Linked DNA regions of Homo sapiens. The protein of the gene in region 2 interacts with the protein of the main gene of each other region in a pairwise test. Each region holds a gene or a part of one and is shown on either strand. Other genes may lie near its edges.

Region 1 (7,029 bases), on a different chromosome or scaffold from region 2:
TTATATGAAATGTCCCGAATACACAAAACTATAGAGACAGAAAGATTAGTGGTTACACAGTGGTGGGGGCAGGGGATGGAAGGCTGGAAGGAAGTGAAGAGTGGTTTTCAGTTTCTTTCTGCAGGGACGAAAATCTTATAAAATTGATTGTGGTGATGGCTGCACAATTCCGTAAATATATGAACAACCACTGAATTGGACAATTTAAATGGGTAAGTTGTACAGTATACAATTTATATCTCAATAAAGCAGTTTTCAAAAATTAAATAAGAAATTGAGGAGTCAAGCAGTTATACCAAGAACACCTAGAAAACGGAAAGGAGAGAGATGCCTTCTCTTTCTCAGATTATGTCAACGTAAAGATACTTTTTCTTATTCAGATTAATTCAACATTTATTCATTGATGCCTACTACTCTTTAGGAACTAGGCTTGACTGGGAATCCCATAAAAAAGACCTAGTTCTCTCCCTCAAGGCTTTCCATCCCTACTAACAGCTGCTACCACTCACCGGGAAAGGAGCTAAGGGTTTCATGTATAGCATCCCATGATGAGGTGGACAGCCTTACCCTTATTACTGATGAGAAAGCCAACTCAAAGAGGGTAAGTGATTTGGCCATGTTCACAGCACTAACCAACAGGAGGGAGACTCGAAGCCAGATTTGTCTATGACAAAAGCCTATGCCCTCTTCACCTCACTGTATTCCTCCCAGGTCAAGGTGAGCAGGAAAGTACAAAAACTACTGCAATGAAATGCAGTCTGGATTAGGGTCAGAAGAGGGCCTCTCCAGCTCCGCATCAAGGAGAAGTCTTCACAAAAAAGTGAAACCTAGGCAGAACTCTCCTTCATGAGAGCTGATACATCACTCAAACAAAAGGAGGTGGGTGGGGCTTTCTACACACAGAAAAAGGTGAGAGGGAATGTGGAAAATTCAGAGACTAGGAAGCAGCTCCATCTGGCTAGAGTATCAGACAAGTATGAGGAGATGGTGGGAGAAAGAATAGAAAGGAGGTTGGGACTTGAAAATGACTGCCACTCGCAGCTAGGAATTTAACCCAAGCACAGAGGCTGACTAGACATTAAAGTATTCTAGGCAGGAGGCAAGAAAGAGCACTCTAGATGCAGGTGGTTAATGCTGGAAGCAGGGGCCTTGCAGGGATTAGGAGGCCCTGCAAATTGTCCAGCTGAGAACTGAGAAGGGCCTGAAGTGCAGCAGCAATGAAAACAGGGGAAAAGAAACAATTTGGAAGATGTTTAGGAGGTGGGAATTCCAAGACCTGGAAGGATGTGGAAACTTAAGGATCCTGACCCAAGAGGTAGACTGGACACTGATGGTGACAACAGTACCCACAACTCTCCTCCTTCCTTCCTGAGCCCCTCCCCCATGTAGCCACTGGCCTCAGGGAAACTGACCCCACTCCCACCCAGCTTCAGGAAAGACCCTTTATTCTTCTACAGGTGATCCCATTGCCCTTATCGCCCAAGAATGGCCATGAGACTCATTCTAGCTAAAAGACTCAAGGGAAGTCTGCTGGAGGACTTCAGGAGAAAGCCTTTCTCCTAGAAAAGACTGTCTCTATTACTATCCTACATATTGCCATATACAAATATCACCTCTTCATCTCTAGAATTTGGCCATTGCTACCACCTGAGGATGGCACTGGCTCCAAGATAGCAGAGCAAGGATGAAATGAGAGAAGCTGGGACCTTGATGTCACTGACCCGCCCTGAACCTCCTTTCCTTGCCCCTGGATTCCCTGATAGGTGAGCTAATAAACTTCCTCATGTTCAAGTAGTTTGCAATGGTATCTCCATAACTGGTGACCAAAGCATCTTTACTGATAGAGTGTGAGATCATTCATCAAACTTGGAAGCACAGGAAGATAAGCAGGTCTGGAGGAGGGTAGTGATGGCTGGCTTAGGCATCTAGTGCAGAATCTAGTAAGTGATCAGAATCCAGAAAATAAGGAAGTTGGGACTACAGGTACAGATGTGGAGTTTCAGCATTCTAGTGGTGGTTGAGGCAATGTGAGTAGATGCACAAATGGAACATGATACTATTTCTCCTACAGACAGATCTGACAAATATATATGAATATCAAATCACCACTGCTCTCCCACTTCTAACAACCACTCATACCCCTCGGAGAACCTGTGCAACCTTAGGCAGGGGTGGCAGAGATTCGATATCCCAAACTGAAATTCAGAAATAAATGTATTTGCAAATAATATATCATACATACTAATAGCTATCATTTATTGAGCACCTTTTATCCTATGTACCTAAAATTCTTTCCTCAAATTCTCACAGTCATCCTATGAGGCAGATATCATGCCCCTCAGCTTACAGATAAGGAAACTGGGGCTGGCAAAAAAAAAAAAAATCACTTGTCCAATCACAAAGCCAGTAATTACAAGGCAGACAAGGATTTGATTGAACACAGGACAGGGAGCAGGGAGGGGAAAGACTGATGGTGACCATACAGCACTCCCATTAGGAGGCTGGCCCAGGTGAAAGGGCCAAACTAAGTCAGGAGCAGCGAGGATGGCAGAGAAAAACCAATTTCGACAAGTCGCAATTAAGGCAGCAGAGGTTCCAAGCCTGCTTCTCAAACACAGGTCTGATGAAGGTCAAGGTGGAACCTGAGTGATTTAACAACTCAAATAGTCTCTCTGGGCTAGCTCAGCAACCTGACCCTCACTCACGGCCCCCACTGTTCTCTAAACAAAGCACTTTCTAACCAACCGCTGAAACATAGTCCCCCTCAAGATGAGGACTCCACATTACTAAATGCGCTTTCCCGAGGGCTCAGAAGGTGTCGTTCCTAAACAATACACTGCAGCACATGGTTCCCTCTGCAGTCTCGGTCCACCAATTCCTCCTTTGCCATCTGACCTTTTGGTTATTGTCTGTGTGAGCTATCGCTCAGCACTTCTCTGTTTTCCCTGCCTGTCCCCATCTCTCTTGTTCTAACTTCCTCTTGGCATGTCAATATCCTGTGCTGGAAAACAAACTTCTCACACATTTTGGAAGGGCTGCAGGCCCTTTATGTCTTCAGCGATCATTAAGACAGCCTCCGAAGGAACTATTCCAGACCTTGATGAATCTCTTTGCAAGAGTGTGTAGTTATAGAGAAAGGGATTCACAATACGCAGCATTAAGACATAATGACTATTTCACTTAAAAAAGAACACAGGAAATACATGCATGGCTCAGAGGACACAGGAATGCAATCACATTTTTTACAATGGTATAGACACTCTAAATTGTACTTACAAGGTTTTTGAGTCACAAAGTAAACTGACTGGTTCCTGAATTTAGCACACTGAGTCTATGCCCAGGACATGTGATAACAGGTGCCTGTTTAATCTTAACATATGAAACGTGGAAACAAAACTTATGGTGCAGAAACAAACGGTGGTTAGTCATCACAACCCAAAGCAGGATGACCAGGAGCAATATGCAGGAGCTTCAGATGTGATTAAAATTGTCAGAGATAAAGCTGAACCAAAGCAGTCAATCTCAGAGAGGCAGGAGCCGTAGATGCAGCCAGTTTGATCTCTGACTTGTCATGTTTACAACAGGCCTGCAGACAAACACACTTTGCATCAGAATGAAAAATATAATTTTTTCATAAAAACCCAATATTTAATGTATTTACACCATCTTTTCCAGTAAGCCTTAGAGCAGTGTCAGATTAGGTTTAAACAGCTTCAAGAGTAACACACAGGTGATTCAGCAAGATTAAAAATTACAGTGCTGGTTCACAATAGCATAAACCCCCACTGTGAAACCAACCAACATGGTTCTCAGTTTCAAGAATGGGAGACAAGGAAGAAAAGTCACTAAAGTATGAGGATCTATTTTCCATTTGGGAAATATGCTCTTCTTCGGAAAGACTCAGGTTGGAAGGGGAGCATTAAATTTAGAAGAGAAAGATTTGGTACTTACAAAATACAAAAACGGTGTGATTCATGTTTTCTGAAATAGCTGCTAGTCAGCTTTTCAATGTACTGCATGCATTCAGTCCACTGCACCGTCTCATTTTCTACCCATTATCAATACAAAAATTAGAGTATCTTGACAACAGATTTTTCACAGTGGGATTCACTTTATTCTAGGGTCTTTTCTAGTAAAAATAAAATAGCAAAGGAACTCCATTATCTAGAAGATTTTCAATACAGCCTATTCCAGCTGTAACACTCCACTCATTCTTCTATCAAATTATAGTTAATAAGCATCTACCACATGAAGTATACAGCTCTGACTCCTGGGGATCACAGGTAGCAGCTCACAGGCTGCTGGAGGAGACAGATGTGTCCAGAAATAATGCATGCAGTGTGACAGATGCTGTAACAGGGATGTGTGAGGCACAAATAGGCACCTACCTCCGCTTGGTCAGGCAGAAGTGAAGGCTGCCTAGCAGATGGGACACTTGATTCAAGGATGCTTCCGATAAGTATGTGTTTATGGAGAAACAAAATGGTACACCAATCAGCAGGAATCTCATGCATAAAGTCTCAAAACAATCTGGAATATTTGGGAAACCGTGAGCAGTTTCTGCATACCTAGAGGGCAAGTCACTTGGACTGGCAGGGCTAGATCAGGTAGGGTGCTAAGTCAAACAATGAAGCTTGGACTTTATCTCTAGGAAGGAATGAGCCACTACAACAAGGAGAAGAGGAGGAAAGGTGGAATAAAGTTAAAATTTGCTGGGTGCTTATCATGTGCAAGACAGCATGAATGTAGAAGGTGAATACTGTACATCATTTCTCTTCATTTTACAGATGGGGAAACTGAAACTCAGAAACGACTCGGCTAGTAAGTAATTAGCGGTGCCAAAATTTAAACCCAGGTAATCTGACTTTAGAGCCTATGCTTTTAATCACTGCAGGTATTGTTTTGTGTATAAAGATATGAAGCACGTGTAAAGATACTTGAATATGAAGCAAGATAAAGATAACATATTGTTTTCACTGAATATGAGGGTAAACAACTCACCATTCCAAAAGAGGGGGAAAAAAGAAAAAATAGAAGGCATCTAAAAGTTACCCCGCATTCAATATTGAAACTGTGCAACAAAGACATAAGAACAAAGGAAGCTGCTATCCTCTATGAGAGTGGTTCTCAACGGAGGGTGATTATGCCCATCAGGGAAGATCTGGCAACATCTGGGGAGATTTTTGGTTGTCATTATTGGAAAAGAGGTGCCACACATCTGGTGAGAGGAGGCAGGGAATGCTGCTAAGTATCCTACAAGGGACAGGATAAACTCCCACAGGGAGTTCAAGATAGTTCAAGCTTACCAATACAGAATTCAAGAACACACACAGTAACTGGACTGCAAAAAGTGTAGTTCACTATCAACCAAGAATACCAGAAGCACCTAGGGAGGGACAGCCAAAAGCTGTTGGAGGTAACCAACAATGCTTTCCCCCTTAAACAGTTATTAAATCACATTCAAGTCATGGATGATAAAAGGTATTTTTAATAATTTTTTTCAAGAAAAAGACTTCTTGTAAAATTGAGGGGCTATTTATACACAGTTCATCTTATGCGGCCACAACCTGGATATCACTTTTGAATTTTAGAAAACTGGATGTAGTTATGCAGGAGAGACACTTTCTAGCCCAGTCACATCTAATTTAATACCCAATCAAGACCACAGTGAATCTTACGTTTGTGTGTGATTACTTGCTTCTACCTACGTTTATATGGTTCCTGACTCTGTACCTTAAGTAGCTGATACCAAAAGATATGAGTATTCACATATAAACTTAATATAATTTGTGAAACTATTGCTTTTCATTTTTTCCCAATCTTCTGGGATATTTTATTTATTAGTCCAAATTGAATGAAAATTGTAATTTTTGGTAAGTGAGATGCATAAAATTTAAGCCCTCGCCTTATGCTTGTTTTCCTAGCTTATTAGGAAATTTCTAACCAAAAGCATCAAAACTGACTCACAGTATTCCCTCAGGAATCTCAGGATGATTGGGAAGTAACATTATTTAGTAGTTAATGGATGAACTATACACTTTAACTGGGCGAAATGTATGGTATACCTTAACAAAGCCATTTAAAAGAAGGTAATGGAATTTTCATCTTACTGCCATATTGGTTTCATTAGTTTAGTCAATACTCATAGGGAAAAATGAGCACCTAAACATTCATCATGCTACTCAGAGGATTAAAATCTTGCCAAAATGAAAATACTAATCTATTTCATATTTGTAGCAGCAATTTTGAGAATTAAATTTATAATCAAATCTTGTGACTTTTGTTTTCCTGAAAATGTTTTGCTAACCAAATGAAAAACTAGAAAAGCAGTCTGAGCCACATTCAAGTTTTGCTAAGAGAACAAAAAGAAAGTTATCTACCTCCCTCAGCACAGAGAACTAGAAAGGATACAACAAAAGTTTCCCAGAACATTACTCAAACAACTGAGACCAACCATACCAAATATCCTTACTTGAATAAACAACAGATAGCAGCAAAAGACAAACAGCTAAAAGCTATTGTAGGGCTCAACACACAACCAATAGCTCTCAGCTTATGTAAACTTGAGTTTTTAAATCTCGGATAAGGTTCAAACTGTGAACTGCATGAATAAGACTTTCTGCTATCAAGGTGAGGTTGCCCCTAAAGCAAGTAAAAAAGGCAAATACCTCCGTAACATTAACAGGGATGCAAAGATACTGTGTTTTATTTTTCTGGTATTTTTTTTTTAACAGAAAATTATTTTCCATTTAAATGGAAATTAAATGGAAATAAAATTATTTTCCATTTAACTGATATTCATCTTACCATATAAGATGAGTAACTGTTGTCTTCAGGCTGAAACACTTTTCATGATGACACATTAATTTTTTTTCTAACATCGATGAAAAACTTTATCTAAGTTGAAGAAAAATCACTTCAAAACTAACTTTTCTATTTGTAATTTGGTGCTTAAATAAATCCAAAGAATGTTTTTCAAAATGATACACAGAAAAAATGTTTACCAAGATTCTCTCATATTTCTTCCAC
Region 2 (7,029 bases):
AAGCCTCATATTCTTCACGTGTAAAATGAGGATATTAACACCTGCCCCAAAAAGCTGTTGAAAGGATTAAGTGAGATGATGCATGTGAAGCACTTTGCAGAGGCTGGCATGTGGAAAGTGCTATCATAATCTTCTGTTTGAAGGGCAGGGAAATATAATACTACTGTCTTCTTCACAATGCCAAAATCTGAAGTGTTCAAATATTTGCAATTTGGAAAAAAAATCAAGATGTGATCTAAAATATGATCATTCATTTTGTCCTACAATATATACCCACTGTTACAGTTACCAATAAGCAGTAGCAATAAAATCCTTTTGTTTCCTGTGGTCACCCTCTAGTGGTGATCCTAAGAAGCTAAAGGAAACATGATATAAAAATACAATAAGGAACCAAAGAATAAGTGTTCAGAATAGATAAAATTATCAAAATAAAAATCAAAGTGAAGATTTTTCTTAGTCCAGGTATACAGGTTTGACTCAAACATAAACAGAAGACATCCAATGCAGAATTTCCTAAAATGCTTAGGGTAAAGTTGTTCCAAAAAGTGAGTTAATGGAAATCTCTAAATTAAGCAAAGCTAAGCATTTTCCCATTCTGTGGGACACCGCAGATCCTTCATAAAGAATGTGATTCTCCAAAAGGAGTCTTTCTCAAATGTCAACCAGCAAATACTTTTTTCAGTAGAATACTATTGCTGTAACAATGGATGAGGGGATAGCTATACTAGAAGTTTATATAACTAATTACATTATTAATAAGGAATTAGGTAACTTAGTATTTATTTAGTCTTAAGTTTTAAAAAATAATTATCGTGCAAATGGCAACATGAAATTAGAGGACACCCAGATAATTATTTTGAAGAAACATAAATCTCAAAATAAAATGCATTTTAATTAAATCTTTAGAAAGAAACTAGTATTCCTGATATTTTACAACCACATTTAATATAAACTTAAATAATCATTTCATAATATTTGTATTAGATTAACAACCAAATAATCATCATATAAAACTAAAGGCATAATATTCACAAAACTTTAAAATGATTTAAAATACTAAAATAGCCAAAATTATTTCTTCATCAGTATCAGAAAAAGAGAATCAACAGTAGGAAAATATTTTTGAATTGCACCTAAAATAGTAAGGGGTGACATACCTGGGATTTCCCCTTAGTGCAGCATGATGCAGAGCATTAAATCCATTATTGTTTGTGATGGTAACATCTGCTCCAGCTTCCAAAAGAACTGCTAGGATATCATCACGTTTCTTACTTATTGCATCATGAAGAGGGGTATCACCTTCAGAATCCTTTAAGTTTAAAGAAATTTTCATTAGTTCTTCAATTAATTATCCCATCTAATAGTAATACTTACACCAAATGCTAAGCAAACAGAAGCAGAGACCACATCCAACAAATACCAATAAAAGAGCACTTTCTGTGATAACTACAAAAATATAGGCAAAGGCTGGGCATGCTGGCTCATGTCTGTAACCCTAGCACTTTGGGAGGCTGAGGCGGGAGGATCAGCAGAGGCCAGGAGTTCAACACCAACCTGGGCAACATATAGAGACCTTGTCCCTACAAAAAATTTTAAAAATTAGCCGGGCACGGCGGTGTGCACCTATAGTCCTAGGTACTCAGGAGGCTGAGGCAGAAGAATGGCTTGAGCCCAGGAGTTCAAGGCTCCAGTGAGCTATGATCATGCCACTGCACTCCAGCCAGGGTGACAGAGCGAGACTCTATCTCCAAAAATATAAAAAACAAAAATACAGGCAAGAAACACTGGCCACATTATAGTAAGGAAAGACATACTCAAATCTAGTTGGAAAACAAAATAAGCATGCTGGAATTTTTTTTTCTTTTTTTTGAGACCAAGTTTCGCTCTTTCACTCAGGCTGGAGTACAATAGCGCGATCTCAGCTCACTGCAACCTCCACTTTCCGGTTTCAAGCGATTCTCCTGCCTCAGCCTCCCAAGTAACTGGGATTACAGGCACCCACCACCATGCCCAGCTAATTTTTGTATTTTTAGTAGAGACGGGGTTTCACCACGTTGGCCAGGCTGGTCTCAGACTCCTGACCTCGTGATCTGCCCACCTCAGCCTCCCACAGTGCTGGGATTACAGGCGTGAGCCACCTTGCCCGGCAAAGTTCTTTTTTTGTAGAGATGGGGGTCTCAGTATGTTGCCCATGCTGGTCTTGAACTCCTGTGCTCAAGTGATCCTCCCACATGAGCCTCTCAAGGTGTTGGGATTACAGGCATAAGCCACCACTCCTGGCACATGCTGAAGCTTTACAAAGCAAAAAGAAAAGAAAAGAAGTAGCCTCAAATATAACTAATGACAAAAACCAGTGAAGTGATAAAGCTGCCCCCCAAATTTTATAAGTTTAAAATGGCCTTAATTGTCATACCCTGAAATTCCATACCAAACCTACACCATAACAATGAATTGAAAGTCGGTGGCTTTCAAACTTGGCTGCTCATTAGAACCTGCTGGGGAGATCTTTTAAAATCTGTTGTACAGAGGAAAAAAAAGAGAAAAAAAAATCTGATGTCCAGGCTGTTCACCATACTAAATCTCTAGAGGTGAGAGTGAGGCATGAGTAATTTTTCAAAGCTCCACAGATGAACATCTTGTGCAGTCACAGGTGAGAAACATTAATCTAAGCGTTTTCAAAGGGCAGCAAAGTGGCTAGTTAGCCAAAGGTAAAACAATTGTAAATTAAAATTTAGCAATCTCAGTCTACCATTTTTTCAAGCTGACTACTTTTTACATTAATCAATTGACTTAGCAGTAAGTTTTTATTCATTAGCAGTCATGTACAGACATGAATAATTTAAATTTCATTCATTTCATAGTTGAACAGATGCTATTCTCAGTAAAGTCATATACAACCTGGCCTACAGCATATACTACAGTTGCCAAATTCAGTTTGCCACTTGTTTTTTGTTTGTTTTATTCTTTTTTACTAGACATATTTCCTGCATGGTTTGTCTCCCCAGTCACTGTCCACAGGATTCTGAGAAGCTACAGGAATATGAAAGTGCAAACACCAGACCCAGCTTCATCTCCAACACTGAGGAAAGGGACTGTACATCATGGGGCAGAGCCCTATGCTCCCCTAAGCCATGTGGACAAAGCCTAGAAAAAATGATATCCCAGGATATTACACATTGGAGCCACCTGTTTTTGTAAATTAAGTTTTATTGGAACACAGCCACACCCATTCATTTATGTATTATCTATGGCTGCTTTCATTCTGCAATGAGAGTTAGATAGTTGTGGCAAAAGCCAATAAGCCACTATTATCTGTGCCCAATATAGAAAATGTTTGCTAATCCCAGGAATATATTCATCCACCTACATAAAGAATTCCTGCTAGGCATGGTGGCTCACACCGGTAATCCCAGGACTTTGGGAGGTGGGAGCAGGAAGATTGCTTGAGACCAGAAGTTTGAGACCAACCTGGGCATTTCTACAAAAAATTAGCCAGGCATGGCAGCTCACACCTGTAGTCCCAGCTACTCGGGAGGCTGAGGTGGGCCCTGAAGGTTGAGACTGCAATGAGCCATGATCACGCCACTGAATTCCAGCCTGGGCAACAGAGCAAGACCCTGCCTCAAAAAAAAAAAAAAAAAAAAAAAAAGAATTCCTAACCCAAGTTCAATCCAACCATCTACCATCTACCTTCTACTCCTGTATCTGGCGGCACTAAAAATCTGTAGTGTTCAACCTGAAACGGGCTTCTAACATGATTGGAACACCCTTCTGCAGGTCCCCAAGTCCTTATCACTCTTCTCAATTACTCTTTCTCTACCCACCACTCTCAACAGATGAACTTGTCTCCCATTTCAGACAAAAAACGTCAGCAGGTATAAATCACCTCTCCTTACAGATTAACACCCCCCCAATTCTTCCCTCATCCTCCAATCCTGCCTCCCACTTACAAGGACATACTCTAGATCCCAACAGTTCCAAAACAGCTGCACTTCAAAAACCTTAATTTCTAATAATTATCTAGCTGAACAAAATCTATTCTTTCAGTTCTTCTCAAGCCCTCATTCCCACTACTACTGTTCTTTATTTCTTCTCTGAGATCTATCCAATCCAGCAACCAATTCCTGGATGCTGTAAATTATCTAAACTACAAGCAGCTTATGATTCTAACCACTGCCCTACTTTTTAAAAAATCATTATTGAGTTTCCAATGGAAACAAATTATGTTTTACATATTCAAATAGTATTTCAGGGAACACTTTTATTTAAAAATAATATGTTGTTTCAAGCCTATTCGGTTAAGGAACCTAAAAGTTGGCAAATTAGATTCAGGAGCTACAAAATTACTAAGTATAGAAACTTTAATCAAACAGGTGCACAAAAGACAAGTTGCTTAGTAACCAAACTAAGCAGAAAATGGACACAGACTACATTTTCTATATATTTGTGGTTTAATTTATCTGGTTATAAAACTGTAGCTGGGGATAATCATTTCTTAGGCAATCATTGCTTCAAAAATTAGATCCTACTGTAAATCAACTCTAAAATCCTATACATTTTCCAAAACAGAAATCTCCGAAGATTACACTAACGACTATTCAAAGTCCCTAAGCTACAATAAAAGCTACAATTAAAATAATTTAAATAGTTATGAAGTAACTATTATGAAATATAGCCTATTACACTTCTTTAAGCTGTTGAGCTCACTGTCATGATCAATAAAGTTAAATCCATTCATAAGCTGATATTTTTACAAAGAAGTCCTCATTCTCCCTGCCCAATCAAAACCCAATCTATTGGCATTTTCCCTAAAAAAAAACAACTTTTTAAAAAAGAAATAGCTGCCAATTTTGTAACATCTTACGCCTTTGGTATCATTTACTATGACATATGAGAACGGTAACAAAGGAATGCTTACCATAGAACTTAATGTTTCCCTTTAATAGGATCCTAGCAATACCTGCAGGATGTGTTTCTTTAAAGGTTTTACCTGGAGACTGGGATGACAGCCAAAGTCCAATAAAGTCTTCACAACTTGAAGATGACCTTTATTGACAGCAATATGAAGTGGTGTCTGTCGGCGCTTGTTTCGAGCATTCAAATCAGCACTACCTCGATGTAGTACTTCTATAACAGCGCCTTCATCTCCAAAAGCTGCATGGTGAACTGCTCTATCACCATCTTTATCCTAATCATTAGTATTGAAATGTGAATTAGTGAATATTTTAGAAAGAAAAAAACCTTGAAGCTATAATAATATACCAAGAAGCAGATTAATTTGAGAAAAGGCAATGTAGGAAACAACAAAATAACTAGAACTTGACCAGGTGCAGTGGCTCATGCCTGTAATCCCAGCACTTTGGGAGGACAAGGCAGAAGGATCACTTGAGGCCAAGTAAACTGTAAATGTGAGTAAGATTTCCAACAATACCAATCTGGGCAACATAGCAAGATCCTGTCTTGTAGAGAGAGCCAGGCATGGTGGCACCCACCTGTAGTCCCAGCTACTTGGGAGGCTGACACAGGAGGATTGCTTGAGCCAAGGAGTTTCAAGTTACAGTGAGCTATGATCGCACCACTGCACTCTGACCGGGGCAACAGAGTGAGACCCTGTCTCTATAAAAAAATTTTTTAAAACCTAGAAACTGACTTGAACAGTGACTAACTCCCAAAGATAAATGATAAACTTAGATCATTTTATATATATGTATTTATTTATTTATATATATACATTTATATATAATTTTATATATATATATATATATATATATATATATATATATATATATATAAAACCAACAGCTTGAACTTTCAGCATTCCTCATTTATCAGCCATGATGGTAAGCCAATTTTTTTTGACATTTAAAAATTTTTACAAAGACCATTTTTGTTGTTGTTGTTGTTGTTGTTTTTAAAGAATCAGGGTCCTAGGCCAGGCGCAGTGGCTCACACCTGTAATCCCAGCACTTTGGGAGGCCAAGGCGGGCGGATCACCTGAAGTTAGGAGTTCAAGACCAGCCTGGCCAACACGGAGAAAACCCGTCTCTACTAAAATTACAAACATTAGCCAGACATGGTGGCACATGCCTGTAATCCCAGCTACCCGGGAGGCTGAGGGAGGAGAACTGCTTGAATCCGGGAGGCAGAGGTTGCAGTGAGCTGAGATCGGGCCACTGCACTCCAAGCCTGAGCGACAGAGCAAGACTGCCTCTCAATAAAAAAAGAATCAGGGTCCTGTTCTGTCACCCAGGCTGGAATGCAGTGGCAGTCATAGCTCACTGCAGCCTTTAACTCCTGGCCTTAATAAATTCTCCAACTTCAGCCTCACAAAATGCTGGGATCATAGGTGTGAGCCACCGTGCACGTCCTACAAAGATGACACAAAAAGTAAACTAAGATGAGTTGTGTGATTGAAAAAAAAAAAAAGAATGCCAAACAATGTGATCTCAACTGGCTTTAATGGGGAGCAATTTATCAACACATTAAAACTGGTTAAGTGATGAGCATACATTTTTCTGTATATTCGAGAACAGAAAAAAAATTAAATACACCATTAAAAGATAAAAACGAAGCATAAACTACCAAAATTCCATATATCAAAAATTCCAAAACTATTTCAGAAGAATCAAATAGATTTGCCTCACCTCCTGTAACAGGCATATTTCTGAAGAAATGAGAAGGCAGGAAAGACCAAATTGCTTAAATTTTTTAAAACTAAAAGAAGGTACTTTATAAAGGGGAAAAACTGCCTGCACTGCGCCATGAAGGTAGTATACATAGCTTATACCAAAAAGTATGAAAAGAAGTCTCACTGCCTTGCCAGAAGCAGATGGAAAAGGGTAGTAGGTATAAGCGTATTGCATTTATTCCAATACTGCATTGCAAATTTTAACACCCACCAAGACCATGTGTCTGTCCCTGATCCTGGTACTCTAAGACTTCCTCCATCCAAAGCAGTGGTTTCCGATTCCCAATACCACTGTGCCAGCCCCTGGTGGACTCCCTAGTTTTGCAAGGGGTCTGACAATC

What was found.
Region 1: the proteins of MIB1 (region 2) and EPB41L4A interact in a two-hybrid assay, tested with the Homo sapiens proteins (one study listed by BioGRID).

Annotation. Positions count from the first base shown.
Region 1 is NC_000005.10:112,409,257-112,416,285, forward strand, and holds part of EPB41L4A (band 4.1-like protein 4A), read right to left. Parts: intron 1-7,029.
Region 2 is NC_000018.10:21,813,775-21,820,803, reverse strand, and holds part of MIB1 (E3 ubiquitin-protein ligase MIB1), read right to left. Parts: exon of another isoform or gene 6,909-7,029; coding exon of another isoform or gene 6,900-6,908; intron 5,189-6,899; coding exon 4,991-5,188; intron 3,181-4,990; exon of another isoform or gene 2,976-3,180; intron 1,310-2,975; coding exon 1,158-1,309; intron 1-1,157. UniProt on the Homo sapiens protein: E3 ubiquitin-protein ligase that mediates ubiquitination of Delta receptors, which act as ligands of Notch proteins.